Linked DNA regions of Homo sapiens: region 2 is linked to region 1. The links come from fine-mapping of genetic effects on gene expression. A gene starts in region 1. The other region holds a variant in brackets. All regions are shown on one strand. Distances are from middle to middle. Region 1 holds the start of QKI (QKI, KH domain containing RNA binding). Region 2 holds the start of LOC102724152 (a long non-coding RNA gene).

Region 1 (15,332 bases):
CGCTTATTCCACACTAAGGAATAGCCCTTTTTCCTGCATGTTTGTACTGGTCTGATAAAAAACAATCAAACTTCCTCGTCATTATATTGCCCATTTTAAACATACTATATGCCACACAGAAGCAATCTTTACACTGGGGAATTGACAAGGCTAAAACTAAAGATAGCAAGACAAGAGATGGAGTAAACCACATTAAAAGGGGAAGGGGAAACAAACATTATCTAGGAGATATCATAGTGGTCTCTTACATTTAAAACGCAAACGAGTACTATTTCCAACCAGAGAGAAATAAGCCTTTGTCAGAGACAATGACATAATTGAAATTTCTGGATTTGAAAGATTAAAAATTATTAAAGCCTAAGGTTGGAAACTTGATAACAAGGAATCAGCTCTAAATTTAGAGATTTTAGATCAACATAAAAGCACAAGAAGCCTTTTAAAACTAAAGAACGCAAAAGTATGCAGCTTTTTAAATAGTATACATAAGGTGAAAGTATTTTCAAACTTTTTTTTGGAATCTCCTATAGTCTTTGAATTCGACATTTCAGGAATGCAATTTAATTTTAATTAACCCTAAATATTGCCAAGGCCTATTTTCATTTTATCGTCGATAAAGGATTCCTTCTAAACAACTGCACTCAAGAAAACAAACTTTCACCAGAAATTGTTACTAATACTACTAAAACTTTAACTTAACCAAAATATGCCAAGGAGAAGACAGTAAGAGTGTTATTTTGAAACGTCATAAAGTTGTGCCAATAATTTTAAGGAAAGTATTTTCAATGTTCGAAAACACTATATAAACACATTATGACAAATCAAATAATCTATAACTTAAGTTTCAACTAAATTTAATATAGGTCAGTCAGATTGAGTATGTTACACATTTTGTTCCAACCATTTCCATGGTTAAAAAATAACTGGCGCCCCTTAGCGCTCACATTTGGAAATACTCAATTTAAGAGTTCCAGCATTTTTTTTTTTTTTTTGACATTCCAGAAAGTTTTCTGCCTCCACAATCTTTCAAATGCCAACACAAATAGGAAAAGCAGAACCCCTTAAAGGGACAGCTCAGGTTTTCTCTGGAGCAACTTGAAATTAACAGATTTGCTGTTCCAACAGCGGAAAATGCCCATTTCAACGTTGGTGAGTGCTGTATGTTTAACATACGGAAGCAAAACGACGAGAAAGCCGTAACACCTAACCATTTTCTACTTTTAAGTTGTTTCTATGACTTTCAAGACAACAGAACTCCTGGGATTTTTCTTTAACCATTTTTTATCATGGAAACATTTCCGGCCTTTTGTTCTCTAGTGACATTCCAACTCCCCAAGCTTCAAACTCCTGTTCCCCGACTCTATTTTTAAAATCTCGAAATTCTTGCGAAAAATCTAAACTCCATTGTTCATCTCTTCAACCTGTAGTTTTCAGTTTCCTTTACACAGTCCTCCGGTGGTGCCTCTAAGCAGGAAAAAAAAACAAACAAACTCCTGGCCAGTCGATTTTCGAAACAGACTTTTTTTGTGGTCTTTTTTTTCTCTAGGCGTCCACAGAAACCCACAGCTACTAGAAATTAATACTTCAGGTACTGCTATGAGAACTTCTTAAGGAAATTCCAAAGTTGGTCAACATTAATCTTCTTGTCATTCTTCACTCCCCACAGCGCTCCATACAGCTTTTTGGAAACTTTGGCTCAATTTTATTTCGCCCTTTCCAAACGTCTCGAAACCCTGTCCTACAAACTCAGGCGGCTGCGTCCCCGGGAGCAAACCCTCCGCCCAAGTTCTTCTAACTCAGGCTGCGCTCCGATCTGTCATCGCGTTATTTCGCACTCCACCCCCCCCCCCCCCACCCCCGAAAAGTGAAGTTCAACTCCCTAACAGTTCTCGCTTCCCCAAACAAAAGGGAAAAAAGTGCTTTTCGCCGTCACTTAGTCCTCCTTGTCGGCTACGCCAGCATAATTTCGGTCTCCTACGGAATTTCTTTAAACTAACGAGCCCCACACTGACTTCCACTTAGTATTGAACAGCTGCACCAACTCCCCAACCACGAAACCCCGCTTTAGTCCTCACGGGAGGGGAGAGCTCCCGAACGCGGGGCGGTGGGGGTCCGCGCAGAGCAGGCTCGGGAGGCCGAGCGGAGGAGCGGGGCCCGCGCCGGGCACACGCGTCCTCCAGGCCGGCGGCGCGGCGTGGGCCTGCTCTCGGGAGGGCTCGGCGAGGACCACCGAGTCCGCGCAGCCCCCGCCGACCTCTCGGAAATGTGACCGCCGAAGCTAGAGGGGCCGCAGGGCTCACCCCGCAGCCCTCCGCAACGCGCCAACTTGGACGCCAGCGGCGCGGGGTCCCGGCCGGGCAGGGGGCGTCCGGCACCGGCGGGTCCACCCCGGCCCGCCCGCCCGCCGCAAGCCCGGCCCGGCACCTCCTTTGTGCGCCCTCCTGGCCTCCCAGTCCCCCCGGCGCTCGGTCCCGCCCGGCCGTGACCTTCCCGCCCTCCCCACCATCCCAAGCGGGGAAAGGGGCCGCCCCGGCGGGGGTCGGGCCGGGGCCGGGGCCCTGGAGACGCTCACCTTCGTCCAGCAGCCGCTCGAGGTGGTTGAAGATCCCGCAGAAGTTGGGCAGGCTGCTCATGAGCTTCTTGTCGTTCATCAGCTGCATCAGGTAATCTGGGGTGGGCTTCGGCTTCTCCTTCGTTTCCATTTCCCCGACCATATTCCAGGCTCCGCAGCTCACTCCGCCCGCCGCCGCCGCCGCCGCCGCCGGAGAGGAGGGAGGGGCGGGGGCGAGCCCCGGCCGCGGGCCGCTCGGGACCCGGCGTCCCGCTCCGCGCCGGCTCCCGCTCTGGCTCCCGCGCCGAGCCCCGGGGCGGCCGGCACCGCGCGCTCGCCCGCCCCCCGCAGGCACTTTCCGCCCGGGCCCGACGCGCTCCCAGCCGCCGCCGCTCTCGGCCGCCCGGCTCGGCGCGTCCCTCACGAGGCCGGCGGGCGGGCGGGAGGCGGGTCTCGGCTGGCCGAGTGCGGGCGCGGGGCGCGGGCTGCTGGCGCCGGACGAGGAGGAGCCGGGGCCGCCGCTCGCTCGGCTGGTCGAGCCCGCTCAGCGCCGCCGCCGCCTGTGCCGCGGGCTCGGGGGGTCTCTCTGGGCTGGTCCCCGCCGCGGCGCCTCTGCCGCTGCCGCCGCGCTCCGACTGCGCTCCTCCTCTTCCTCCTCCTCCTTCTCCTCCTCCTCCTCCTCACTCACTTGGCGGCGGAGTTCGCCTCAGTTCAGGCGGCGCTGCCAGCGGCGGCGGCAGCAGCGGCGGCGGCGGGGGGAGGGGCAGCGGCGCGGGGAGGGCCGGGGGCGGGCGGCGGGCGGGGCCGCGCAGGGCGGCCGTTAGCGGGTCCCGGCCGGCGCGCTCCCGCTGCCTGCTGCCCGCCGCCCCGCGACCGGGGCAGCCGCCGGCGCCGCGCCCCCTCCTCCCTGCCTCCCCGGCGGGGCGGGCGACGGGGGCAACGGGAGTGTGACGGACTGCGGCGCTCGGCGGGCCTGGGCGCAAGGACTGGGTCGCCGCCGTGCGGGGCGCCCGGGGCGGGTGGGTGTGGGCTGCGGGGCCGACGGCCGCGGGGGGGGCGCGGGGCTTTCCACGGCACGGGGCGGGTGGGGCTGCGGGCGCGGTCGGGGCTGGCGCGGCAGGCGAGAGGAATTCCAGCGGGACGCGCCAGCGCTGCCTCCGCCTCGCCTCCCGTTACTATAGTTTTTTCAGAACCTCTTATCCACCCCGCAGAAGAGAAATTTTTTTTTAACGTCCTGTTGCTTCACGGGGGACTTTCGGGGTGGGCATCACGTGGCCCGACACGTAGCCGTGGGGCTCCAGAGCGCGTGCGCGCGTCGAGCCCGGTCGCCACGCCCCTTCCGAGGGTCGCTCCGCCCCCGTCGGGCCCCGCGAGCGCGCGGTGGGGGAGGGGAGGGCCCCGGAGCGCGCCTGCGTGGGGCGGGGGCGGCAGCCGACTAGGGGCTGGGTCTGGCCGTTTAGGGCCGGGTCTTGGCCCGTCGCCCACGGTGCGGAGGGCTGGTGGGCTTTCCTTGGCCGTCGGGCCCGCCACGGCGCGGGTCTTGGCTGCGGGGCGGAGGTGGGGCGGGAGAGCCGAGGATAAGAGTTTGAGGCTTTTCGAGGCGCGTGCCGCGGCGTCCGCCTCTGCGGGACTCTGCGCCGGGCGCCCTCGGCCGGCGCGCCCGGCTCCCGCTTTGTCGCCGAGGGAAGCACGCGCGACGCCCCTCCCGTCGCCGCCGTGGCTTCTTTCGGTGTTCGTGATTTGCTGAGAGGCTGGAAAGCAGCACGGCGGAGAGGAGCCTTGCACTCGCCAGGCGGGAAGCCTGCGCGGACACGCGTGCGCACCCACGGGGCGGCGGGCGGGCGTGGGGGGTCCGGGCCACGCGGGCGACGCGCCTCTAGGGAAGCGATCTTGTTGCACCTTCCCGTTATTCTGAAAGCAAATCGTAGCCAGACCCGAGCGCAGCGGCTTAGCAAATAATAAGGGGAGCGTCAGTCGTGCTCGAAATGCTTCCTTCGCGATGGCGTCAGTGTTCCGTGAGGGAATGAAGCCGCAGTAGGAAATAAAGAGGCTGTGCGCGTAGTCTGAAAAGCAGAAGTCAACATTTTTACAGATGAAGAAAGAATACGGAGGCAAGAGGTCTTTCTCTGCAGTTTGGTGGATTTCCAACATTTAGACTTGTTTGGAAGAATTTCCTCAGCTGCACCAATGAAGTCCTTGATCTATAGAAGTCGGCAGTCCCTAAATCTACGTCTGCATTTTGTTGCAAATCCTTTATAACATTCCATTAAAATAATGCAGAGTTATTTAATATCCAGTTGGCCATCGTGAGAGTAATTCGCGGCTGAGATTTTGTTAATCATTCTGTCTTCTGACTTAACAGTGAACGTAGGTGATTTTTTTTGTAAAATGTTGCTTCACATGAATTGTGAGAATCACCTCTAAGTTTGAATTGTACTGAAGGCACTATAAGAATTTCAAATGAACGCTGAGTAGCCAGTAGCCTTCTGGCCTTTTCGTTTAACAAGCACAGAGTTCGTTTTTAAAATTAAGTTACTTTGACAGAGGAAATGTAATAGCCTTGGTAGACAACATTAAAAATGTAACTGTCAGATGTTTTAAAGTCTCCAACAGCCGTATCTGTTTTAGAGCCATAGAATATTTACTTACTGAATTGCCTGTTTAAAGATGAACTTTCTAAATGCAGGGAATAGTAACTTGCAAAAAAGCTATGGTCTCTAAGTAATGAAGGCTGTTTCAGTACCTAGAAAAATCAAAATCAAGGTTTTGATGCTGCTAGTGTAAAAGATGCAATCCCCTTCTTAATGGCCTGCTTATTTATTAAGCTCCTAGGCACTATGCTGAATGCCCTACATGCATATCTCGTTTAATCATCAGTACAACTTGGGCTTAGGTTAGACTGTTATCCCCATTTTACAAATAAGGGGAAACCCAAGAAAGATGAAGTTAAGTAACTTGCCCAAGAATATAGCTAGTGAGTCCTGTGTCTGGGATTATAATCCAATTATATTTTATTCTAAAGCTTTTTTTTTTTTTTTTGCTTTTTTTCCTTGCCCTATCCTTTAAATCAGGTTGAATTTTATGACAATATTCCACCATTTTTGACCCATAGAAATGGCAGTGTCATAAGGCTCAACCACTTAAACCAGATTAAAGAACAATGATAGGCAATTTTCATTTCCTATGTATTAAATCACTTACGGTTACAGCATTTGATAATAGCTACTGTGTGTTAATTTTCTTTTTTTTGAAACAGAATTTCGCTCTTGTCACCCAGGCTGGAGTGCAATGGCGCGATCTCGGCTCACTGCAACCTCTGCCTCCCCGGTTCAAGTGATTCTCCTGCCCCAGCCTCCCGAGCAGCTGGGATTACAGGCATGCGCCACCACGCCTAGCTAATTTTGTATTTTTAGTAGAGACGGGGGTTTCTCCATGTTGGTCAGGCTGGTCTCGAACTCCCGACCTCAGGTGATCCGCCCCCCTCAACCTCCCAAAGTGCTGGGATTACAGGCGTGAGCCACGTGCCTGGCAGGTTACCTTTTCAAATCTATGTAGATCACCTCATTTCCTGACAGTCCCTCAATGGTTTCTTATCTCAAAAAAAAAAAAAAAAAAAAGGAAAGAAAGAAAAAATCCGAAGAGCTTACCAAGTCCTGCAAGACGACAGGTGTGCCCCTGGTGCATCACTGACCTTATGTCCTTCTCCTCCCACAGCCCACTTGGCTGCACCCCCGTGGAATCCGTCTGGATCCTTAAATATTCCAAGCATGCTTACCCTCCCCAGGACTCTGCCCTTGGTGTTTGCTCTCCTCGGAAAGCTTTTCCCCATACATCGGCGACCCCTGCCCCTATTTATCTTTAGAAGGTGTCCCTTAACACCCTATGTAAAATGGCGCCTTTGTGCACGCAAACACTTCCTCCCTTCTTCCATCTGCTTACCCCAGGTTCTTTTCATACCATTTGTTTCCACGTAACAATGGGTCAACTCGTTTGCCACTGGCATCAACATTGTAAGCTCCATGAGAAAAAGGAGTTTCTTCTATTAGGAATTTCCAACACCTAGATCAGCATATGGTACACGTAGGCACTTATTAAATATATGTCCAAAAGAAGTATTAAGTACTTGTTATGGACCAGAAGCTCTGCAAAACCCTTATCTTCATTGTTTATTTTCATCCTTACAGCCAATATTTGAGGTAGGCAGGAAGAGCCATATTTCAGAGATGAGAGGGCTGATGCTTAGGAGGAGTAAGTAGCTGCAGAGGGTCGGGTGCGGTGTTTGTGCCAGTAATCCCAGCATTTTGGGAGGCCAAGACAGGTGGATCACTTGAGCCCGGGATTTTGAAACCAGTCTAGGCAACATAGTGAGACCCTATCTCTCTAGAAAATACAAAAATTAACAGAGTCTGGTGTCACATACCTGTAGACCCAGCTACTTGGGAGATTGAGGTGGGAGGATCAGGGAGGCAGAGGTTGCAGTGAGCTGTGATCACACCATTGCACTCCAGCCTGGGCAACAGAGCAAGATCCCGTCTCAAAAAAAAAAATGTAGAAAGACTAACTTTGTAATAATTACATTATTACAAAAATGTTATCTTAATACAGTATTGAAAATAAATTACAACATGTAGTGAGTATATATACAGAATGAGCCTCCAGTTGAAGATCCCTATAATAGGTTTTTTCACTGTGAAAAATTGTCATCTAATATGTTGACACTAAAAATGGTTCCACATTCTAACATCAGTAATTAACCAGGCGTGGAAACATATTTTCTATTCTGTTAAATTTGATTGGCTCTATTTGCTTATTGCTATTCTTAACATTTAAAATAGAAATTTGCAGTATTCCAAACCTTTCTTTATCACCATAGAGTTCTCGAAAGAACTATAATGTTCCTTGGATATAAGATTTAGGGTTTTATGGCTTTTTGTCCCAGTGTTCTTTTTAAAAATCTTAGTCTTTAGATTTTCCTAAAAGGAATTGGGGCATTCTTGGTATCTTCGCAAAATAATTGTTTATTGTCTTAATAGATTTGAGCATCCTTTTAAATTACGAGATGGCGCTTTTTTTTTTTTTTTTTACTTTTTAAAATTTTTTTTACTTTTAAATTGTGAGATGGCTTATCAGGTACTATTTAAAAGATTGAAAATGAAACATTTCAAATGTGAATATCTTAAATATTTCCAGTACCTGTTATATGTAAATGCATATCATTAACCCTAAGGCATTTACAGGCTGAGCTGGGAGTTAATAGCATGTGCAGGTACATTTAAAAAGTTAACTAATAACTGCCACGTAAAGGCTAAAGACAAAAATGCTGTGAAAATACCGGTGAGCACCAACATTGCCTGCCCGGAAGCCATTGTAAGACCACACCGGGGAGGTGGATTTGATCTCGAGGCGGAGCAAAGAGTGTTGGGAGACAGCAATGACAGAACTTGGGAAGTGGAAAAGTACGAGGTGTTAGGGTAGGAGTTTCCACAGAGAGTATTTGATGCCAGATTTTGGTTGGCCTTGAACATCAAACTAGAGTGTTTGTAGGGGAAGAGCCTTGGGATTTGTGTGTGTGTTGGGATGGGGAGTGGGCGGAGATGGCGGCGGGGGCGGGGGGCGGTCAGGGGGGAGGTGGTCTCCCTAGGTTGTTGCCCAGGCTGATCTCAAAAGGAATTTTTTTTTAATATAAAGAAATGAACAAATTAGATAGTAACATGGATTCCTCTCAGTGAACCTTATTTATATCTACTAGTACAAATACAACATTTGTAAAATGAAAGGCATTGCTCTTCACAGCTGTTCTAATGGTAACTGTGCTGCTTTTTTAAGCCACTGACATGATCATTCCAGATGTAGTACTAACATTTAGCTTAAACTACTGCACAACGGTTAAACGGTAACTGACAGTGTAAGGTTTCTACTCATTTGACCCTAAATGAAACTTTAGAGGTAAAAACATTCTCAGCCAGGATGCAGGTCCTTGTGCTATATAATCCAACCTTCATTCCATATTTAAACAGAAACCACCTAAAAAATAACTGTCTGTCAATCACAGGAAGGTGAGAGTGAGTTACAAATGCATTTTGTTTTGATCTACTCCCAGACTGATGCTTGGTTTTATGATTGCAAGACAATTTCACAGGTGCTCTCCTGGATTGGGTTGATTGTTATTTTATTTTATTTTTTTCCTTCAGATTTGGGACCCTTTAGGATGCATCTGTGATTAGATTTTTTTTAACATACTAAATGGATATGTTGGATTTATAGTCTATGAGTTAGTTTTAAAAGTTAATATGGGTGACCATTTTACCAACAAGGGGAATGACTATTCATGTCCCAGACATTTAATCAAATGCCATTATCCTTTACTAAAATTTAACTTAGAGCCTAAATGTACTTTTCCAGTAATTTCTGTATATTAATGCGTTCTTAACTGAGTTCCCAGTGAGACCAAGGAAAGACCAAAAAAAAGACTGACATTTATAGAGTCCCGATCAACCTTCGGGCACTTCAGTTACTGAGTATGCAGCAACTCTGAGTTAATAATTATCCTCATTTTACCGCTGAAGAAGCAGAGGCTGAGAGGGTTAACTACATAATGTGACTCATGTGGCAGCTACTGAATTCAGGACAGGATTCAAGGCAGACCTTCGGAGTCCTGAGTGATGGAAGGCACACTGTTGACCTTTCTGTAAGTTAAACTTGGGTACCTCAGGAGCTGTACTTTAATTAAAATACCTGTGGCGTTTGAGTCTCTTTTTTCCAGTATTCTAGCTGATGGTGTATAGAGAAAGGATTGCTGTGCTAGGTATAAAAAGCCTTATTCGTTCTATGCTAATAAGTTGTGTAGCACTGCATAAGTAACCCTGAATCCGAGTTGAACTAAGTGATCTCCAAAGTCATTCGAAGGTTTAAAATTCTGTGATTCTAAATAAAATATCCTCACTAAGATTAGCAAATTGACCTTGTTGTAATTTTATTTCTGCACCCAGGATAACCCTGTATGCAGATGGATGGTCATGTAATAGCAATAAGAAATTAATATAAAAACCTTTAGGTGTCCAATTTTGCACAACTTGTTGAAATAAGTAATAAATAAATAATATGGATATATATTATATATTATGTATATTATATATAATATATATAAAGAACTATAAATTCTTTGTGTGTGTGTGTGTGTATATATATATATATATATATATATACACACACACACACTAAGAATTTTTATTTCCCTTAGGCAACACATTTGGCTGAAAATGTTACATTTTTGTAATTTCCAAAGAATTAAAATCAAATCTTTCTTATTTTTTTAAACATACTACAACTTAATAGAAAGTGGAGCACTAAAAAATTTCATCTAGAGCTCTTGATGAAGAAACTTACTACAAGTAGAGCATAAAAATTCCTTAAAGGTAGAATTCAGGTCTTATTCCTCTTTCTGCTCTTAAAATGCTTTACAAGTAGTCTACTTTAAATAATTACTTCTTTGAATGAACAAAAGAAAAAAAGGAAAAAACACAGAGACATACTTGGACTCTAAGGAGAGGAAGCAGCCATGTAAGCTGCTCATAGCATCTGAAAATCCAAAAGATTTCTTTGCCTTCAATGACAGGTAGTGTTTGATGCTGTGTGTTCATATTTTGCAATGTAATTCAGTGATTCTTGCAAAGTATTTTGGAGTGTAAGCGATGTCTTACTCAGCAGGAAACAGCATTTGTGGCAACTAGGCCAGGGAATCCATAGTCCTCTGAATCTATAACAGGTTAGAAAATGAGCGCCTCTGGTTTTAACATTGAAGAGTTTGTATAGCAATGATATTTTATCAGAATTGTTCACTACTTATTCAGATATAAGATTAAAAGCAGGCAGGGCACAGTGGCTCATGCCTGTAATCCCAGCACTTTGGGAGGCTGAGTCAGGTAGGTCACTTGAGGTCAGGAGTTTGAGACCAGCCTGGCCAATATGGCGAAACCCCATCTCTACCAAAAAATACAAAAATTAGCCAGGTGTGGTGGCGTACGCCTATAATCCCAGCTACTAGGGAAGCTGAGGCACAAGAATGGCTTGAACCCAGGAGATGGAGGTTGCAGTGAGCTGAGCTCACACCACTGCACTCCAGCCTGGGCAACAGAGCAAGATCCTGTCTCAAAAAAAAAAAAAAAAAGATTAAAAGCAATTATTTGTAGCACTGAGATTCAAGCAGTACACACCAGTACAGCCTTTTCAGTTTTTAAATTTTGAAAGATTCCCACACCACTCAGTGAGCAGTCACTGCTCTGAGCCATACTACCCAGGCCCTCTTCCGGAGCCCCGGGACCCCCCTAACCCAGCAACCAAAGGCAAGATGCCTGGCACCCTGACCCCATCAGGGCTGGCAGACACTGATCATTTATGCCTGTGCTGGACCAACTGTTACAACTTTTTGATTATTACTTCTGTTTGTATGGGCTTCTTTGCATATTTAGAAAATTATTTTATTTCATATCTTTATGTCCATTAATCCTGGGCTTATGAGTTTTTACTAAATGTAATGAAAGTGGATAGTTTTTTGTCTAAGATACATGTAGGTTCTTTGGGTATATATCCAAATTTAGAAAGGTTTATACAAATGACATTTATCCAGTGGCAATGAAATACCAAAGGCTTCAGTTTTGCTTTCTATTTTCCATAAATAATATGTTAAAAAAACAGGTTGCTGCCAGAGATGAAAAGTGATTCATTCTCCTCCTTATGATAAACTCTGTATTTCACACAAAGAAATATCTCTGTTCTGTTCTTCCCCAGTCCTGTGTAGCCATTTGCGTTCCTTTGCTGAGCTGTACAAGTAATACTGATGATGCTAGCATTTATTATTTCCTAGTTATTCTGTCTAAGCCAATCTGTAAAATGTGTTACAGTTACATTTTATAGATCTTCAAGGACCACCAACTTGATTAACTGACATTAATGACACTGTATTTTTCTCAGTATCCATTGGTAGTGAGCATCCTTTTGAGTTGGAAAGAAAATGTGGCATAGTGAAATGAGCAGCTGTTTTTATTTAACAGTTTTAAAATGCGTGCCCTATATTGATAGTGTGAGCTGGGAATTAAGCAGCCGTGAGAAACTGAAAGCTAAAGCTGTGATCGACAGAGGGACGTGGCCCTGCTCCTGCCTCTGTCCTTTCTGTGTCCAGGTGAAGCTGTTAAAGGAGCAGAAAGAATGTGAGGGGATCAGGAACGCAAACTTAAATGTGAATCAGGAAGGAGAAGAAGGGCTTGCATGCGAGGAGTTCAAAGACAGTCTTGTAAACTCTCCCATCAGCTGACCTGCCAGCAGCGAGCCGCCTTCTCCTCCAGTTCCTCTCTGGGTGCCTGGCTGTTGGTGGCAGAGGCAGCAGGCCCTGCTCTGTGCCAGGTCCTTGACCTCTGTAGACCGACAGCCAGACTTGACCTTCTCCTCCCCCTCAGCTCACCAGATTTCAGCTTTTCAGTCAGTCCCATGCCTGATTTCATGAAGGCACACTGGCACTTCATCAGATGGCCCCAGCCAGGCCCTGCCTCTGTGTTTGGGAAGAGGGAGCAGACACAAGTCTCAGACTGTAAGTGGCAGGCTGGCCTGGCGTCAGGGCCACTCAGCACCCAGGCCGGTGCGGGAAGGAGGCCTTTCATCTCTAGGCTCAGACAACTGGTTTGGGGCCTTTTAATAAGTACTTCCTTCTGCACTGAAATATGAAATAATAATACCTTAGCCCCACAGCATAACTATGTGCCAAGACTATAGAAACGCTTCTCACAGATAATGCAGAGGAACGGTCCTGAAACAAGGACGGAAAGTCCTGAAACATTTTTCCTGAAGAATTTGCTGGTCCTCCGAGGCAGCTGCAGAGCAGGAGGATCCAGAAAAGTCACTGAAGAGGTCCCAGGTTCAAATCTCGACCCTGTCACTTGCTAAAAGCAACGTAAACTCTCTGCACCTCTCTTTTCTTGCCTGTAAGGTAAGGTGGTGCAGCATAAGGATGTTAGGATGGCATGGGTGCCTCACTGCATGCCTGGGACATGGTAAGCTTTCAATAAATAGCATCATTTTAAGAATTGAAAAGGAGGCCTGGATAGGGCTCCAGTTCGTACACACGTATTTTGGGATGTGTGCAATCTCTCTACGTTGAAATTTTCTCCACAAAGCTCAAAAGTATTCAGTCATCAGTTTTCTGCTGCTTCCTATTGCACAAACCGTTTCCTGTTCCCAGGACTGCTGACACTAGGACGTAAAGGGACAAACAGCCTGATGAAAAGGAGCCTCAGTCCTGGGCTGGCCCCATTGTCAGCAGCAACAACACTTGCTCTAAAGCTGGCCAGGGGTCGCCACCAAGACCCAGTGTTGAAAGCCACTGTGTCATTGCAGGACCAAGTGGAAAAGGAGAGGCTGCCTCCCTCCTGCGCCTGCCCTAGAAACAGTGGGCCTGGCAGTTAGTGGAGGGAGCTTAGGAGATCCCGTCTTCCGGAAGGTCCAGGAGCTCACCACGCCTGTTAGATTCCATGATGATATTCTAGCACAGAGAGTTGTGGGCTAACCCAGGGTTTAAACTGTGATGTCCAAGCAACTGTTGGGCTGCATTATGCCAGCTCAAGGGCTTTCTCCAATCCCTGCCCCGAGGTGGCCACCGCAGCAGTGTAGGAGAGTGAAGGAGCCAGAAGGGGGTCTGCCCCACCTGCCCACTCAGCAAACCATGCTTTTGGCTTACTTCACTAGATACTTGGAAAGCAATAGCAACAAGCTTTAATCAGATACCATGGGAAAACATAGCCCTTATTTTGAATCACCTAAAATCTGAAAGTGGAGAGACAAAAATATACGTACTTCACTAGTGGCTTCTGCAAGTTTGTTTTACTAGATCATGCAGGAAGCAGCTAGACAGCAGTGGCTCCTTCTACCTTCCCTGCACGTGCCTTGAAATCAGCTTCATCTCTCCTGGTAACCCCCTAGAAATTTCGCTTCAACGAGATTAGGTCCTTAAAATTATGACTTCTGCACCTCCTAGTCTTGTCACCACCTCCCAGCCCTGGGCCACACCTGTAGCCTCCAGAAAACTTACCAATGGAGTCAGGACTTTCTCTCAGTGGTTTTCAAGGTAACAAAGTGGCTTTCAGAGCCTCATCTCCAAATGAAGGCCAGGACACACACAATTAAATCAAGGTAGTTGAAAGGAAAAAGCTTTCAAATAAACCTTTCTGGGATTCAATTATGAGTCTTGCTTCACCGCGAATCACATACCCCATTGTAATACTAATCTTGAACAAAATTTCTATTTGCATCATATGTTTTCTTGCTCACCAAGAGGGCGACACATTACCAATAGATACCTGGGGACGTGCTTCAGTCTGAACTATAATTGAATCCCTGACATTATAAGGAACTTGGTAAGAATTTTCCTCTTGAAATCTATTTTTACAAAAGTGACTTATTGTGTACCTTGTGTGCAGTGATAATGCACTAAGTAAAGGTAATGCCAGAGACCACAGCAAAAACTTAGATGATCTGTTTTCACACCAGATTTCTCCGAAGCAAGATCACCATCACAGCACTGAGCTGCCGTTCACTTAGTAAGCCACACAAATCTGAATTCAGCACAAAGCCTTCCCTCTTCGTGCTTCCCCCGCCTCAAGCCTCAAGTTCAGCAGCTCCTGCCTCAGCCCTCTCCCATTCTCTCTGTCCTCATCGTGGTCTGTGGGTCCTTTCCCATCCTCCCCACAGCCTCTCCATGCAGAGTTTCTGAGGGGCCCTGAGTTACGCTAAACTTGAAACCTGCTGGTGTGATGTGATAGAATTTCTTATGTATAATATAACATATGCATATGAGTGCAACATGAACACCCCATAACCTTGTTCTTGATGTCTACTGTCGAACTTCCTGGATGTAAGACTTTCCTAGCATCTTAATACAGCTTTTTAAAAAATTGCCAACTTACCGGCTGGGCGTGATGGTTCACACCTGTAATCCCAGCCCTTTGGGAGGCCAAGGCAGGTGGATCACTTGAGGTCAGGAGTTCGAGACCAGCCTGGCCAACATGGCAAAACCCATCTCTACTACAAATACAAAAATTAGCTGGGCGTGGGTGGCGGGTGCCTGTAATCACAGCTGCTCAGGAAGCTAAGACAGGAGAATCGTTTGAACCAAGTAGGTGGTGGCTGCAGTGAGCCGAGATCACGCCACTGCACTCTAGCCTGAGCAACAGAGCGAGGCCTCATCTCAAAAAAAAAAATATTGCTAACATACAATTTCTCATTGTTATTTACCCTTCATTTGACATTGTATTCCATAGTCTCAACTTTATCTTTACAGCATTCATTCAAGAAAGGAAATAGGGATTACATGAGGAAAAAGAGAGCAAAGGAAAAAATTTCGATAAAGGAAATTGTCCTCCCTTCCCCCCCACCAAAAAAAAATTCTCCTTTGCTGGAAAGTGAACCTAAAAGCAGTTTTGCTTTTCAAAAGTTTTCTAAACACACACACATACGCATACACACACACACACGCATACACACACACACGCACACACGCACACAGTATTTCATGGCCTGTGCACCAGTTCTTGCCCTGCCGGCTCAAGGTCTAGCTTGTTTTTCCACCCCATAGTGTCAGGCAGGTCCAGCCCTCCTTTATGTCCTAGAGTTCGTGTTGGTGCCAGGCAGCTTCAGATTCTGTGCCCCATTTGAAATCATTTGCAAGATCTGAATTGTTAAAGAAAATACCCTGGTTCTGAGTAATGCTAACCACTGGAAAATATTAGAAAACATTTCA
Region 2 (16,015 bases), 260 kb before region 1:
CTGGTACAGTGTGCCTGCTGTGCACACCTGTAAGACCCAGTAACTACAGGTTCAGCAAGAGACCATGCGTAAGAATCATTGCATTCAAGTGATAATATGGGATTTTGCAAGTCTACAGATACAATATTAATTATTTACCAAAAAATGAGTTGCACCTGCATTCAAAATATAACTATACCAAATTTATAATATGTAGATGATTTCAACTCTTTTATCACGTATTTGTTTTTTTAAAAAATAATTATGTTAAAAGAGGCTCCCTCAGGAAACAAATCCTTATGTTTAACTTAACTCCCATTTTCCATCCCAGGCTTCTCTGTAATAAAACCAAAACTCATCTGACACGTTTGTAGAGCACTTTACCCAAAGAGTCCCAAAGGCTTTACAGATTTCATTCTATCAGAGGGAAGGGGAGTAAATTATTCACTTTACTGAGAGCTATGAATAACGTTTCCTGGCTACCTCAGTCAACTACCTCTAATAGTGATAAACTAAATCAGGCTCTCTCAGCCATATATAGGCCCACATCTATCTGTGAGCTTGCCAGGACCCAGAGAGACTAGATCTACTTTCCCCATGCCATCTTTCCATCCATCTTTCCCATCTCCAATCACATCCCATCTTCCCCCTCTTCACTCTGATCTTTACTCACCAGATCAAAATGTGGAAACAGAAAATGAGAACAATTCAAAAACTGAAGGATCAATGCACTAAATAGTTCCCTGACACCCTGAAAGGTTAATGTCATTTCAAAGAACAAGCCTCCATTCCATCTTACCAGTCTCCTTGTGCCATCCGTCCCCAAAATTAAATTCAGTATTCTAACTACATACTATCATTGGTCACCAATAGAAGCAAAATGGAAAGAAGGACCAGGAATGAGTCAAAATAAACTAATGTCTAAAGACAGACAATATTCATATATATATATATTATAGCAGTCATTAGAAAACACTAGTAAAACACTAAAGAAGACCACGAAAAAGAACTGCAGGAAATCTTTAGCAAGGACCCAGTGAGAAAGCCTACAAATGCTCTTTTATAGTAGGATGCTCATTCTCAAAGAGGCAACAGGAATCATTTCATTTTTGCTCAAGGAAAATAAAGGTGAAGAAAATTCACCACTTGACTGTACTAGTTCTGGAAGACTCAACAATAACCTCCCTAGAGTCATTCAATCAACTAACATTAGTCATGATCCTACACTGTCACAGCACTGTGCAAGGCATGGAAAAGGTATAAACATGCAAGGTATCAACATCCCTGCCTAGGAGATCTTCTAGTCATCACTTGGTTTTCTACTATTGGCCTACATTAAGCTGGGAACCATCTGGAAAGGGCTAATGGTGTGATCTAGTTTGGATCTGTGTCCCTGCCCAAATCTCCTGGTGAAATGTAATCCCCAAAGTTGGAGGTGGCGTGTGATGGGAGGTGAATGGATCGTGGGGGACGATTTCTCATGAATGGTTTAGCACCATCCTCTAGGTGTTGTCCTTGCAATAGGGAGTGAATTTTCATGAGATTTGGTGGTTTAAAAGTGTATGGCACCTCCCCAACCCTCGCTCTTCCTCCTGCTCTGGCCATGTGATACACCTGCTCCCCCTTCGCCTTCCGCCATGATAAAAGTTTCCTGAGGCCTCCCCAGAAGCAGAGCAGGTGCCAGCATCGTGCTTCCTGTACAGCCTGCAGGACTGTGAGTCAATTAAACCTCTTTCCTTTATAAATTAACCAGTCTCAAGTATTCTTTATAGCAATACGAGAATGGACTAACACACAATGGAACTTCTAATTTATTATTAGAAGCATACACACCCCAAATACTCTTTTTAATGTTAACATTACTTACACTATAGTAATAAATATATGCCGAACTGCAAATAAACATCTTTACAGATTAAGAATCAATGCACTAAATGTTTCAGCTTCACTCTACTATCTAATCAATTCCACAGCAGTTTATTGCTGTGTATATGCCAAATCGATAAAAAATGCACCTTAAAAATACCTATAAAATAGAATGCTATAGAACAGATACTATAGGACTACAAGAAGCAATTACACTGTGCAATTATATAGCACAATACCAACAGCAAGCAGTTATTGTAACTACCCATGAAAAATTATGGGATGTTTCAAGCTAACTTGCTTTTCCATTACATCCTTCTCAAACAAAATCCAGTATCAAGGAGTGTATTATAGTCCTTTATTCGCATATTCTGGCACTGCCACCAAAATTGAAATGTTCAGGGCTAAACAGGACGAATAGAATGATTCAAAAATTGTATTCAAAGCATGGGCTCCCTTTGGTCCCCAGTGGAATACTACTAAGGCTGCAGAAAGACCACAACCCCATGCTCAAAAAAGGCGTGAAGAAAATAACTCAGAGGACGAGGGTCACTGCCTTCAAACATTCAAACAGGTACCACATAAAGAGGGATGAGACATTCTACAAGGACCCACAGACCAACGAGTCAGAGCTGCTAGGAGAAACTGTGTTTTAATGTGAAGGCAGATTTCCTAAAACTTGGCTCCTCCCCAAAGGAAGAGGCTTGTCTCAGGCCCCAGGGAACTCTTATCTTTGAACTGTCAAGACCATATATTAGATGGTTACAAGAGAATCTTGCCTTTTGGAGGAGAGACCTTGATGACTTGTACAGCGCCCCTCCTGCTCACCTGCTGCTTAACAGAGAATGGTATCATGTGTGGAGCCATTAAAGGCAACAGGGTATCTGAGAAAGTATTCCCGCTGCTCTATAAGGGAGAACTTTCCAGAACTGAACATCAACTAGCTGCTTCAGAAACCATCACTAATCAGACCTCGGGAAATCCAACGAATTGTGCCCCTATTAAATGTAGTGAGTACAAAGTGATGTCCACCAAACATAACAGCACACAACTTAGACTGCCGAGAACATAGGAGAATATTCTAGGAAGGAAATAGCCAAGCCCAGCTCCCAAAGTATAATTAAGGGAGTTTTTCTTTTATTGGTGTTTGTTTGTTTGTTTGTTTGTTTGTTTTTGAGACAGTCTCACACTGTCTTCCAGGCTGGTGTGCAATGGCGCTATCTCGGCTCACTGCAACCTCCGCCTCCCGGATTCAAGTGATTCTCCTGCGTCAGCCTCCCGAGTAGCTGGGATTACAGGCACCTGCTACCACACCCGACTAATTTTTTTGTATTTTTAGCAGAGAAGGGGTTTCACCGTGTTAGCCAGGATGGTCTCAATCTCCTGACCTCGTGATCCGCTCGCCTCGGGCTCCCAAAGTGCTGGGATTACAGGCGTGAGCCACCGCGCCCGGCCAGTGTTTCTTTTTTATAAAGAAATCGTGTATGCACATTTTCTTTTTCGCGTGGATTTTGTGTTCTGTGCTTTATTATTGCTCCATAAACGATTACCGTGTATGTGTAGCTAAGTTAGATGTTTTGCCACAATGGGGTCACCGTTCCCTGTGAACGCAGACGCGGCCCTGCGCAGGCTCGGGTTCCACGCCAGGCCTGGCGCCTTTGCGCTGCAGCACTGCCCGGAACAGCGAATCCAGCGAGAGTCAGAGGGCCTGAAGGTAGACGTCCCAGGCCCCACACTGCCCACCCAGCACTGCCTTGGGACTGGCGCGGTGCTCCCATCTCACCCTGGCATCTGCAGAGTTCAAGGGGGCGCAGTGCGCTGCGTAATGCTCCGTCCTCATCCCCGCGGGGCCTCACTGACAAACAGGCATCACTCCTGGGAACCCACCAGCTCTGGGGAGGGCTGCTTAGACTGGGCGGAGGCACCTTACTCTACCCATGCACTGCAGGTCGCCCACGACTTGGCCCCAGTAGCCATTACCTCGAGTATCGCCAGTCCCAGAGGCAAACGGAAGAGGCCTAGGCATCCAGAAGTGCGTCCCCAAAGCTCCCGCGCAGGAGGAATAACCGTCACTTCCGCTTGCCTCTCATTGGTCAGAGTGAGTCACATGGTGGCATGACGTCAATGGGGGCAGGGCCAGCATCCTCCCGGGTGCCCGCCCTAAGCCTCAGCGGAGCCGCTGGGAGGTGGAGGCGACTTACCGTGGCAAGCCTGGGTGGGTGGGCAGGTGGGTGCCCCTTACTGCTGAGATAAGGCTGTTCAGGGAAGCAGCCTCCTGACAGTGCGTGATGAGCAGGCGTGTAAATCCCAGTGCTAGCCAGGATCCAGGAAAAGGCCAGGCTTTCCCACCTGGCAGGTGAGTGGGGTCCCCTGGACCACCTGGAGGCCACGCAGGAGCAGCGGTGCTACAGCCCCGTGCAGTGAACCCACTCAGATCTCAGGCGTGGTTTCTGGGAGCCACTCAGCCCCTGGCTTCCTAAGACCTTTCCCACCCCACCCCGCCCCTAGTCTTCCCTTCTAAGACTCTTTAGAAAGGAGCCTGTGGTCAAACTTTGCCCACGCATCTAACCTCCAGCCTGAGTCCCTGGGAACTTTATTACGTCACTGCCTCCTGCATAGCTACTGTCCACGTTTAAATATTATTTGAACCATCGTAGCTTCGAGAGGTTAAAACTTTAAGTGAAGAGGAAAATGAACCTTACAGTTCAGCCTCGACTGCCCAATGCCTGTGACTTCTCAGGCATCGCAGCACAAAGATCTACAAGGAACTCATCCAAATGAGACATCTTCCTCATTAGCGTTTATCATTAACTGAGAAAAGAAAGAAGCATTTAAAGTATCTTTTTTTTTTTTCCTGAAGGTATGGAACTCCAATTTTCTCCAAGTAAATATGGACCCATTCGGTTGTTTTTTAAATGAACGCTTTGTCTTTACAATTTGTGCTACAGCAAGCTCTCCTCTTCATTTCTAACTCTTTTTACTGGAGGACCCCTAGAGAAAGTAGTTTGGGGACTTCCATGCTTATTAGATGCACATCAAGCAGATCCTGTTTACTCCGTCTCAGCTTTTCTTTCATGGCATCAGGGGCAGGATATTATTTGCAAGCAGCCAAGGTAATTACCATCCAGCAGGGTCCAATTGTTTTCAATTAAAAGCTTTACTGCAGTCTTTAGTTTTAATACCATTGTGGCCATCTGCTTTCACTGAAGATCTACCAGCCAAAAGCCCAGACCACATCTTAATGCCATTAACTCCTGAGAGCCATTTTCCTCCAGAATGAACTCAATAGTCCAGGGGAAATATGGGGATAGCCTCATGTTATCTTTGGTGGCCTGGGGAAAGCTATAGGACTCAGGAAGGTTATTTTCAGAAAGACAAGCACTACCTCTTCTTGCCTGAAGTACTAGGTAATTGTCTTAATTCTCTGCTTCACTTCAGCAGAGGATGCCGAACTGTAACTGCTCCATTGCACATTTTCCATCCAGCCTCAATATTCTGTAGCTCTATTATAAAATGTCTCTGAACTGTAATTTCATCAGATGGATCACTTTGGTATAGACATTTTCCATTTTGATATTCAATTTCTATCCAACTCTGCTTAGCTCACCATGACCCAAAATCTAGGTGTGGGTAAACGGTAAGGAGTGACCCAGGTTACCGAATGGATGCTCACACTGCAATGTGAGGTCATTTAACTGTTTTCATGGCTTAAAACCTGCAGGCCATTCCAGTCACAAATTTATTAGGGATTAACTAGAGAGTTTTATTGAACTATCAGGGACAATAGCCCAAAGCCTAGACTTGGAGTTTACAGCACATGTTTTGCCTACTCCTGAGGGTTCACACTGTGCATTGGTTCCACCAAAGCCATTTACATTTCTCCCTTCTCCTTCCCTTCCTCTGCAAGGGAGGCTTCTTTGCAACCCAGGTGGCCATGGCCCATAACCCTGGCCAATAAGATGGAGGGTGCAAGTCCAAGAGGAAAGATTACCTTCTCCCAAAACCATACAGAGGCTCTATGCTCTTTGATTTCCTTTGCCCTTGTGCAAAAATCACTAGCTATGTCAGATCTACCAGTAGGATTTATTGTTTTGATTTGTTTGTTTGTTTAAAAAAATCCTAACTGCTGAAGTAATCAAAACTAAGAAAATGGTCACAAAAGTGTCCAAGAAAACCAGAGGTATTGCCTTCCTGGTTCCAGAAAGCATTTCCATTTTGAGGCAGCAAAATTAATATCTTAATTCTCAAAATTATAAGACAAAAAATTCTGGAAGGAATTACTCAAACTAAAAGAATCTAGAATGCAAAATCAATAATCCCTGTGGCATAGCTATCACTTTCCTACAAATATTTCTGGCTTTCCTTCTGGGAATAAGATGGGCTTGTGCTTCCTTGCCCCTCCAACATGAGATATCACGGTCGTTTGTTACAGCAAAATAACCAGTCTGACTGCTACCCAATGCTAACAAACAAACTCTGGAAAATGCAGGGACATTGAGTTGGAGAAAATGATCTTTGAAAAGCCCTGAAAAGCGGGGCACGGTGGCTCATGCTTGTAACCTCAGCACTTTGGGAGGCCGAGGCGGGCGGATCACGAGGTCAGGAGATCGAGACCACAGTGAAACCCCATCTCTACTAAAAATACTAAAAATTAGCCAGGCATGGTGGTGGGTGCCTGTAGTCCCAGCTACTCGGAGAGGCTGAGGCAGGAGAATGGCGTGAACCCGGGAGGCGGGGCTTGCAGTGAGCCAAGATCACACCACTGCACTCCAGCCTGGGCGACAGAGCGAGACTCTGTCTCAAAAAAAAAAAAAAAAAAAAAAAAAGAAAAGAAAGGCACTGGAATGTTATCAAGATCACCCAGTGACTCCGATGTGCAAGAAAGCTTAGAAACCATCCAATCAAAGTCTTTTTTTCTTAATTCAAAAAAAAAACACTCTTTTTATGGGCATAAAAGTATTTATTTCAAAGAGGTCAGAAAGCAATGGCTGGCCATGCCAGAAAAGGAAGCTAAGACGGCTAGGATCTAACTAGGAGGGTAAGTTGCAACCTGTTCATACTGCCCAGATGGAAAGGGGACTCCTATAATATCAGCTTCATACATCCACTGTCTGTAACTTCCGTTACCTAATACCATCTCCGTCAGCCTTTCAGCCAAGTATGGTAGCATCTTTCTCGAATATTTATAAATTGCCTACAAGCACTGAAATTGCTGTTAGAAACTATACATCTTCAAACATGCACACTCCATTCTGTTCTCTCCAGACTCTGTTCTCCCCAGAATCCTGCTAATTTCTCTACAGTTTCAAGTCTCAGTCAGGGCTTCAGAAGGTTGAGGAACAGGCTACCCTCTGCAGTCAAGTTTGTCCTGGCTACGAAGTCCTGCCCCACCTGCAATCTGCCTCTGCCCTCGTGCAGTTGTGACAGACTGGAAAGCGCATTGTATTGAATTACCCTTTCTAGAAAAGAGCCAAGTAAGAAATTAGTTATTCATAAGTTCTTTGTGCATGATTTGCCACAGAAATAACATGAACTATTTTTGTAGGGCTTTGACAAACCTGACTAGGCTTAGCCCAACCTGGAATAGTCCCTGGGGAGCCTGCGAAAAACAAGCCACATGAGCTGTCCTGATGCTAGCTTCTGAGGGCCCTGACCCCCAGATCTCTATCCTCCCCCTCACCCTGCTTCTCATCCCCACCCCCTGCAGTCCTTCCTCTCAGGCTTTTGCAGTTACTCAAGATACTGTGCACGTAGCAGAGCAATCAGATGCTTTCTCTCAGATGGCTTGGCTAATGGCCACTTCCTGTGGTTGTCAAATGAAAAAAGAAGAACTAGCACATCCCCA[A/G]TGACTTATTGTATCACTTCCCGTATCTGACTATCTGGCAGCCAGCATAATTTAACATCACTCGTAAATTAAGAGCCTCTTGCGAGGGTGCCACAGCTGAGCCCACCACCCCGTTTTGCTGATTAGAAAGAAACCGTGCCAGGACTTCCATTATGAATAGTCATTTCCTAAAATGTAACTCCAACAACACTGACATCTAATCATATATTAAATGAATGAATAGGGGTTCCATATCCACCCTGTGGACCTCTGAGCTCATTCTGAAGATTAAAGTGACTTCCTTTAACGTTCTCCCCACTAGCACCGTGCCCGTAAGGCCAGATTTCACCGCGACCGCCCCTTGCACCCCCCAACCAGCCCTCCAGCCCCCAGGTTATCCCCCACACTTTTCCCTGTCTCTTGGCTTTGCTCCGTTTCCCTTCCCTTCATGGCCTGGCCTGTGAGAAGAGTCAAGGTGAGCTCAAGCGAGGACCCTCATTCTGCCCCAACACCTCAGGCCCCTTTCTTGTTGAGAGTGGACAGCTCCATCAGGCACTTGGTGCCAAATGGAAGCAATGGAACTCGGTGCTGGCTCTCCATGTCCAGCCAGCGCTGGCTGCAAGCAGCAGAGACAAGCAGGGGCAGAAATCATAAGCAGACCCCTAGGGCTGCGTGTCCTCCCCTGGGCAGGCACACAGTGGGGCGTGCTAAGCAGCTTCGTAGGTAGTGGCTGCGCCGCATCTTGTTGACCTTAGCAGAGAATCCCATTCTCTGCTAGGCTTTCCAGCCAGGCTGGAAAAGCCTAGCTCATACTTGAGGAAAAAGACCTCCTTGATGCCATATAGGTGGTTTTGCATGTGCGTTCGTTCTGTTCTCTTGCTTTTTTCAGTGTGGGATTGTGAATGAGCACTGGAGCTGGGTCCAATGGCCCAATTTGCACACTGGCTTTGTTTGGTGCAGAGCGTGGCCACGGCCTCAGCAGCCCTATTGGAAGTGAGCTGTGTTTGGGTAAATCATGACCTCTCTGAGCCTTGGGTTTCCCTCTGTAAAATCGCAACCACACTCTACTGAGCCTTGATCTATGTTCAGGACTGTGAAAAATCAATGAGACAACACATATGAAAATACTCTGGGAAATGGAAATTTATAGCTGTCATTTTGCTAAAACTTATAAGAATAGATTAGCCCAGTTCTAGTAATAACTTCATCATTTATGAGTTGTGTGTCTTTAAACATGATATTTAAACTTCCTCAACCACAGGAACTTCATACAACTCATGGCTCCTTCCTAAGTTTGCTGTGAAAACTAAAATGAGTTGATATAAAATACATACCACAGTACTTGGCAGAGAACGTGAGCTCGGTAAATGACAACTGCTTTTATTTGTTATTGTTAGTATTTTTATTATCTGAAGAGGACAAAGAAGATAAAAAGCTTGTCCAAAAAAAAAATGAGATGCCATTTTTATATTTTATGAGTCTCGAAAAGATCAGGGACGTGGTTTCTAAAATGACTTTGATTCAAAAATAAAGACCAGTGTTTGATAGCTTCAGAATATTGTCTAACGGATTTGGGAACTCTGAAAAAAAAATATGAGAACAGCTGACACACTGCAGCTTAAATATAATCAGTCACTGAAATTGCTCTGCAATTTGTTTCAGTGTTTTCCTGTGGATTTCTTTTTTTAACCCTACATGTGTCCTAAATATATAATTATATGGCAGAGTATAATAGCTCATTTGGAATTATTGAGGTCCATTATATAATCCAGTAGGACCATGGGGCGGGGCCTGGAGGGGGTGGTTTTTCACTTGATGAGCACCACACATGCACTGGAGTAGAAGCTAATAGATGGTCTTAGCCCCAATTATCTTCTTCCCCAGGCCAGTCTCCCAAAAGACAGGGAGCACACTTTTCTGCCCTACAACCAAATTGTTTTAAATTGCTGTTGTGCATTTGCTTGAGAGGTCAAAATTTTTACAGAGATGTAAAATTCCTGAAGGGCAGAGAATAAGTGTGTACGTGTGTATATGTATGTCTCTGTATGTCTGTGTGTCTGTATGTGACTCTGTGTATAACAGTGTGTGTGTGTGTATATGAGTGTTTCTGGGTGTGTGTGTGTGTGTGAGTGACTGTGTATTAGTGTATGTCTATGAGTGTGTATGTGTCTCTGGGTGTGTGTCTGTATTTAACTGTGCCTGTCTGTGTGTCTGAGTGTGACTGTATATGACTCTGTGTGTGTGTGTGTGTGTGTGTGTATGTATGAGTGTTTCTGGGTGTATGTCTATATGTGACTGTGTCTGTGTGTCTGTGTATCTGTGTGAGTGTGACTCTGTGTGTGTGACTCTGTGTGTGTGTGTGTGTGTATGAGTGTTTCTGGGTGTATGTCTGTATGTGACTGTGTCTGTGTGTGTATCAGTGTGAGTGTCACTCTGTGTGTGTGACTGTGTGTGTGTGTATGAGTGTTTCTGGGTGTGTCTGTGTGAGTGTGACTCTGTATGTATTAGCCTATGTCTGTGTGTATGAGTGTCTCTGGGTGTGTGTCTGTGTGTGTCTCTGGGTGTAAAGTGTGTGTCCCAAAATGCTAAAAATGGTGGCTTGGACACAGCAAACACTCAATTTTTCAAGAAATGAATAAATGACACAAACTGCCTCTCCCCAGATACCTTTTCTTTGCATCAATCTATGAAATCTGTGTATGTATATAACTGTTAGGCCAGACTTGAAAATATACATTTTCTACCACCCTTACTTGGATTTAAAATAGAATTGGCCAGAGCTGTGGTCTTCTAGTAGAGTTAATCACCTTGCCGATATATCCCTGTTGATTAACTGATGGAGTCAATGCAGGCTTTTTGTCAATTTCCCTTCCTATTGGATAATTTCTCTCCTTCAAGAGAAATTAGGGCACTAGAGACCATATACTCAAAATCCATTACATAATTTACTTTTAATCCCAAGAGAAACCAAGACTGATGAAGGCTTTGCTGTGCCCTGAAAGATTGACTCATAAGGGTTGGGGGCAGAGACGCTCACCTGGTCCAGCCCTGCTGCATCCTCATGCTTGCAGGTTCTGAGCCGGGTATCCAGTCTGCTTCTTTAAGCCAATTCTATCTGAACTGGTCAGTCTTTAACTTCTTGCATTTAAAGTTTGTGAAGAACTGTGTTTCACCCAAAATTCGTTCATTTGCTAGGACACCGTCCCTCTGCCGCATAGGACTCTGTCAGCCCGTGGAAATGGGTGCCACTTTGCAAGCGGGCAAGATGCTTCTCAGCCCACTCCAGAATGCCTGTATCTGCTGACCCTGGAAGTGCTGTCTCCATCAGGCCCAAATCCAGAAGTCCAATCTGCCCCAAGAAGGCCCTCGCTTCTCTCTGGAGTTCAAGAGAACCTTCTGGGTATTCCAGATACCTCTGACCAACCAAGGGTGAGAGCAACCCCCACAGAGTGGTGTCACATTAAATATGGCACTTAGAGAAATCTCAGCCAAAAATTAGATTCTGCAATTATGTCCCTTAGTTTCAAGGCTGCAATCCAGGAATAGTCCTGACCACTTGTACCCCCTCTTTCCCAGGAAGCTGCTAAATGCCATATAGACCATATTCACAGGGATTCAGCTTTCTTCCTATCATTGAAAAGGAGCCATCAGTGATCCCAAGAGGGGATGAGGCCTAAGGCTGGTGGAGGAGCCCAGGAGCAATGGGGGATACGCTCATTGTGGGAAGGCTGTAACTGTGGGTGAGAGTGTTCATCTTGGTTGCAGAAGGAGGACTGCTCAGGTAGAAGGAAGAGGGAGCTGTCTCAAACCAGCAATGGGGGGTCTCCAGACACAGCGACATTAAGGTGGGCACATAGGAGGGCTCAGCAAAGGGCATGACCTGAAAGCCTTCAGGCAGGATGCAAGGACTGTGTCCTGGCGAGAAAAACCATTGAGCCTTCAGAGTCTTTATAATGACCCCAAAATATCCCAATGTTGACTCAGATCTGACTGGCATTTGGCAGTCACGGTGTCCCCATGATGACATTTGATAATACCTTCCTTCCCTGCCTTCAGCCATTGCTTGCTTCGAGCTTGCTTTTGATGTCCCTCACTTTTGTCCAAAATAAACTCTCTGCCGCAGCCAGCCCTGGCGGCTTCTCTCCGGCACATGAACTTGGCTCCCATGCCCACATGCCAGTGGAGTTTCCATAAGAAGCTATGGCATCCTTTCGTGATTCATTCTCAGGATTCATCCAGACCAGCTCCTCACCCAGAAAGGTGACCATCAGGAGTGGGCGACCCAACAGCACTGAGTCCCCAACTCCAAGCAAGCGGCCCCTCCACCTCCCCTGCCTCCAGGCCTTGTTCTCGCAGTTCTCCCTCCCAGAGCCCCCTCCCTTGTCTTCCTCACCTAACAAAACCCTAACCATCTCCCAAGGCCCAGTTTAGATCCTTCTTCCTCCATGGAGCCTCCTCTGCTCGGCCCAACCAGAGGAGAGGGCTCATTCCCATGAACTTATAGAAGCCATATAGGTCAAGGAAGGAGGCTCTTCAGTTTAGCCTTTATCGGAACAGCTTCTGTGAGCTAGGCACTCTGCTTAGGGCTTTCTGGGAAGGACTAATCGAATCCTCGTTGTAGGTACTATTATTAGCTACCATTCTCAGTTGGGGAAACTGAGGCACTAAGACGACAATGGACATACCCAAGGTCACCACTGATAAGCAGCCATTCGGGTGCTGAAACCCCAGTGCACTGGCCCTAGCGCTGGGCTCTGCACCACCTCCCGGGCCACCCTCCTGTTCCTTTTCCATTGGACACTCAGCCCCACGTGGCCTTGAGTCAGCTTTGGAGTTTGTCATTCTATATGCCCATGTCACCCCTGCAACCAGAGGGCAGGGACCATGGCTCAGTGTCTAGGAATGAAGCCGGCGGGGGTCCAGAAGGGCCTGAGGACTCTGGGTCCTGCCGTGAAGCACGGGGAGGAATCTGGGCAAGCCCTTTCTCTGTTTTGCTTCAAATCCACAGACTAACCAATATTTCTGTTTAGAGGTCCCTTGAATATGTTACTCCCGAGCCCAGGAGTAAAGAGGGAAATGGCTCAGTGGCCTGGGCTCTGTCACTGAATCTACATCTCTGTGTCAGGGGACCGCACACACTGCGGCTGGACGCTGGGTTTCTGTCCTTGTCACACGCGTTCCCTCCCAGGGCCATAGGCTTTCCACGGGAGCAGAGGAGGGAGTTGCTAGGGCTGGGAGACACTGGTCTTAGAGGAAAACCAGTCTACACAAGAATAAAAGACAGCCAGGCTCGTTCTAAAGCCCACCGCTCAGGACTGAAGTTGGAAGTCAACAAATAAAACTGCCGTGTCCCCGGTCCCCAGAGGCTGCAGTGGAGGACGGCTGGGTTATTTTGTGCTAAGAACTGATCCCCTAGCAGAACTGAACAAGGCTGCACGGTGATGGAAGGGAATCCCAGTTAATGCTGGGGATTTCAAACACATCAGGAACAGGAGGCGGAAGGACAGCCGGGAAGTCCACAAAGACCAGATGCGCGTCCTTCCTCAGCGGGAGAGGTTACAGGAGTTTCCTTCTCCAACTGATTCTACAAATTCCATCAGGCAGCAGCCTCCACTTACCAAATTGATCCCATCAGAAATGTAGGAGGAAATACTGATTGTGAATCAAAAATCATCCCCCTGTCAGGCCTAACTTCTACTTTTACCTCTACTTGACATTTGCTTCATGATTTAATTTACCTTTTCCTATTCACCCTTCCTTCTCTTGTTTACCTGGCTCCCAATTGAATTGAGCAGCTGAATTTTCATTATGCAAGTCAGAGGTCTGAGGAAAGTGTCTGAGCTTTGAATTCCTGCCAGTAATCCCATATCTGTTCTAGTTCATTCACCATAAAATCATGAATCCTCCTGACCCGCACTGACCTGCTCCAGTTAAAACAGGCATTAACAATGGGGGAGCAATTCATAGATAGGGAAGGGGACTAATTTTTCTGCTAAGCTTCACTCACCCTCAAGGACAAAAACAGTTCTGCAACAGCTTCTCTCTGCCTGTGTCCATTTGGAAACAAAGCAGATCCCAGGCAAAACCATGAGGTTGGCCCTAATCACCTGCCTAAGATCCAGCTTCCTCTTAATCATCTTAGGTGCCCCCCTTGCTCTAGCCCAGAGAGAAAGCACAGGCTGGCCCAGGGGGAGCTGAACCCCCATAATCCACAGCAACTCCTCCAGAACTCCCTGCAGTGACTACTGCACACCATGCCACTCTGAGACACAGTCACAAGACAAGTGCCCTAGTGTCTTCCTACCCATAACCCCTCCTACACAGAAGTTCAGGAGCTGCCAGTGGGATGATGCAGCCTCCCCTTCAGGGGCCCACTGCCCTGCCTTCCAAGCCCTTCCCATCACTGGGGCAATGAACCTGGCCTCACCACACTGTGTCCTGCTGAGATGTGTTGTCTGCTCATTGCTCCTTTCAGAAAAGCCTGCGAGAGAGAGGAAATGAAACAGAGATGGAAGGAAATGCAACCCTGGTAAGTGAGCTTTCTCCTCTGCAGCCTGCAGTCTCTGCTGGCTAAGAGTCTGGGCATTGGCAGCTTTGCAGGGTTGAAAAATGCCAAATGGTTCTGTGACCCAAGATGAAGCAGTGATAGCAGGGTGGCTCTAAAGAGGGAGAGCCTCAGCAAAGAAAAGCCTGACCCCAATCCTGTCTCAGTTACCTCTCCTGAAGAGTTCTTGGGTAGATCAGGGAAGCCAGCCCAGCAGGCAAAAATCAGAATACAAGTGTTGCCTTCCACCCAAGCCCATTTTTTCAGACACCCTCAAGGGGCCACTATTATATTGAGAGAAAGAGAAGATGGGAAGAACACAGAAGCCTGGGGCAAAAAATACACGAGAGATCAAGCTCAAAAACTGTCCAGATAAGACTCCTGGCTGTTTCCTACACATGGAACTGGCTAGAGAAAATAGACTGAAAGATGTGTATGTTTTGGAGTAGATTGCATTGCCAAAGAAATACAAATTGATCTGTAAAAGCCTGTGACTCTCTAACCAGTTAGAAACTCTTGATTCTCCAAACCTGCAGGAAATGGACTACAAAAGCCATTAGTCCCAAAGAAGGGCATGGTCTCCAGGGCACATGCTCCATATGGCCATAGAGGATCATGGGCAAGGAAGCATCTCTTAGAGTGCAGAGTCTCATTGCAAAGAGCCCAGCCCACTGCACCTCCATAGAGCAGGTGTAGCCAGGAGGGCTCACCAACACGTATTCTCCAGTAGGATTTGAGCATCACAATGGACAGTAATTCCTGTGGGTTTCTCCATTCTCCTTTTCAGTGGGAGTTTTGCTGAGGTTATCTGCTCATGTATCCTGGTTCCACAGGGCATTGAGTGAAGGTGGGCCGGCAGGCAGGAACCTTATTAAGTGGGATGCAGTCCGTGAATTTGATTTTCAAGTTCTCTTTCTTAGGAAGGTGTGAATGTGTTTGAGAGTGGGGGAAGAAAGTACATGGATATTTGGGTTACCAAAAGTGAGAATTGTGACAGAGACACTCAGTGATCACTTGATATCTATTCTCCCCCTTCTTCTACAGTAATAGAACCCACGATTTTTAGATGGGAACATGAGATTCAAGAATAAAGACCACACATCCCAGCTCCCCCGTAGTTAGAAGCGGTGAGGTGACTAAGCTCTGACCAAGAGCATGTAAACAAAAATAATGTGTGCAGCATCTAAGTTGTGTCCTCCCATTAACCAAGAGCAAGAATATGGACATGGTAGTGGAACACCCTGAACTTCACCAAAGAGACCAGCACCTTAGGGACGGGAGAGCTACAGGGTAGAGGCACTTGGGTCCCTGATACCTCAAAGCCATGACATCAGCCCTGACCACTCATGCCTGGCCTGTTATGTAGAGAGAAGGAACTTGTGCGTGCCACTATGTCTCAACTTTAGCAGCCAAACCTATCCTATCTAATAGAACATTGAAATCTAAACACTGAGTAAATCTCCTAAAAGGTAGAGGAGGGAAGGAAGGAAGGAAGAGAGAAAGAGATAGGAAGATTAAAATAAATAAAGTAGAGGACAGGTTACAAGATCCAATGTCCAAATAATAATAGTTCCAGAAGACAGAGCAGAGAAAATGGAGAAGAAATCATCCAAAAAAAATTCAATAGAGGTTTTTCAAAAAATGAAGAACACATGTTTACAAATTGGAAAGAACCATTGAATGTCCAGCACTATGGTGAAAATAGATTCAGGAAGAAAATAAACAAAAAAATAGATATGGTACAAAGCATCAAAAGATCAAAATGCCATCCAACTTCTCACCAGCAATATTGTAAACTGGAG

The links.
Region 2: its variant is fine-mapped to the expression of QKI in whole blood (INTERVAL, PIP 0.98). The same link has a PIP of 0.9 or more in B cells.

What each region holds. Positions count from the first base shown.
Region 1 is chr6:163,402,573-163,417,904 of GRCh38, reverse strand. It overlaps QKI (QKI, KH domain containing RNA binding), which reads right to left and starts at 3,187. Exons shown (of 8, transcript NM_006775.3): 1 at 2,570-3,187. The coding sequence starts at 2,711. It overlaps LOC124901234 (basic proline-rich protein-like), which reads right to left and starts at 6,324. Exons shown (of 4, transcript XM_047419614.1): 1 at 6,196-6,324; 2 at 3,820-5,291; 3 at 3,237-3,656; 4 at 2,729-2,940. The coding sequence starts at 4,699. The coding sequence ends at 2,729. It overlaps CAHM (colon adenocarcinoma hypermethylated), which reads left to right and starts at 3,955. Exons shown (of 1, transcript NR_037593.1): 1 at 3,955-4,840. RefSeq lists silencers at 2,169-2,358, 2,559-2,608, 2,859-3,678, 3,769-4,548 and enhancers at 2,629-3,282, 3,283-3,935, 11,541-11,730, 11,961-12,140, 12,151-12,220.
Region 2 is chr6:163,659,507-163,675,521 of GRCh38, reverse strand. LOC102724152 (a long non-coding RNA gene) reads left to right here and starts at 4,038. Exons shown (of 2, transcript NR_134620.1): 1 at 4,038-4,201; 2 at 10,865-11,156. RefSeq lists an enhancer at 13,938-14,077. The variant A/G (reference allele first, on the strand shown) is at 7,691.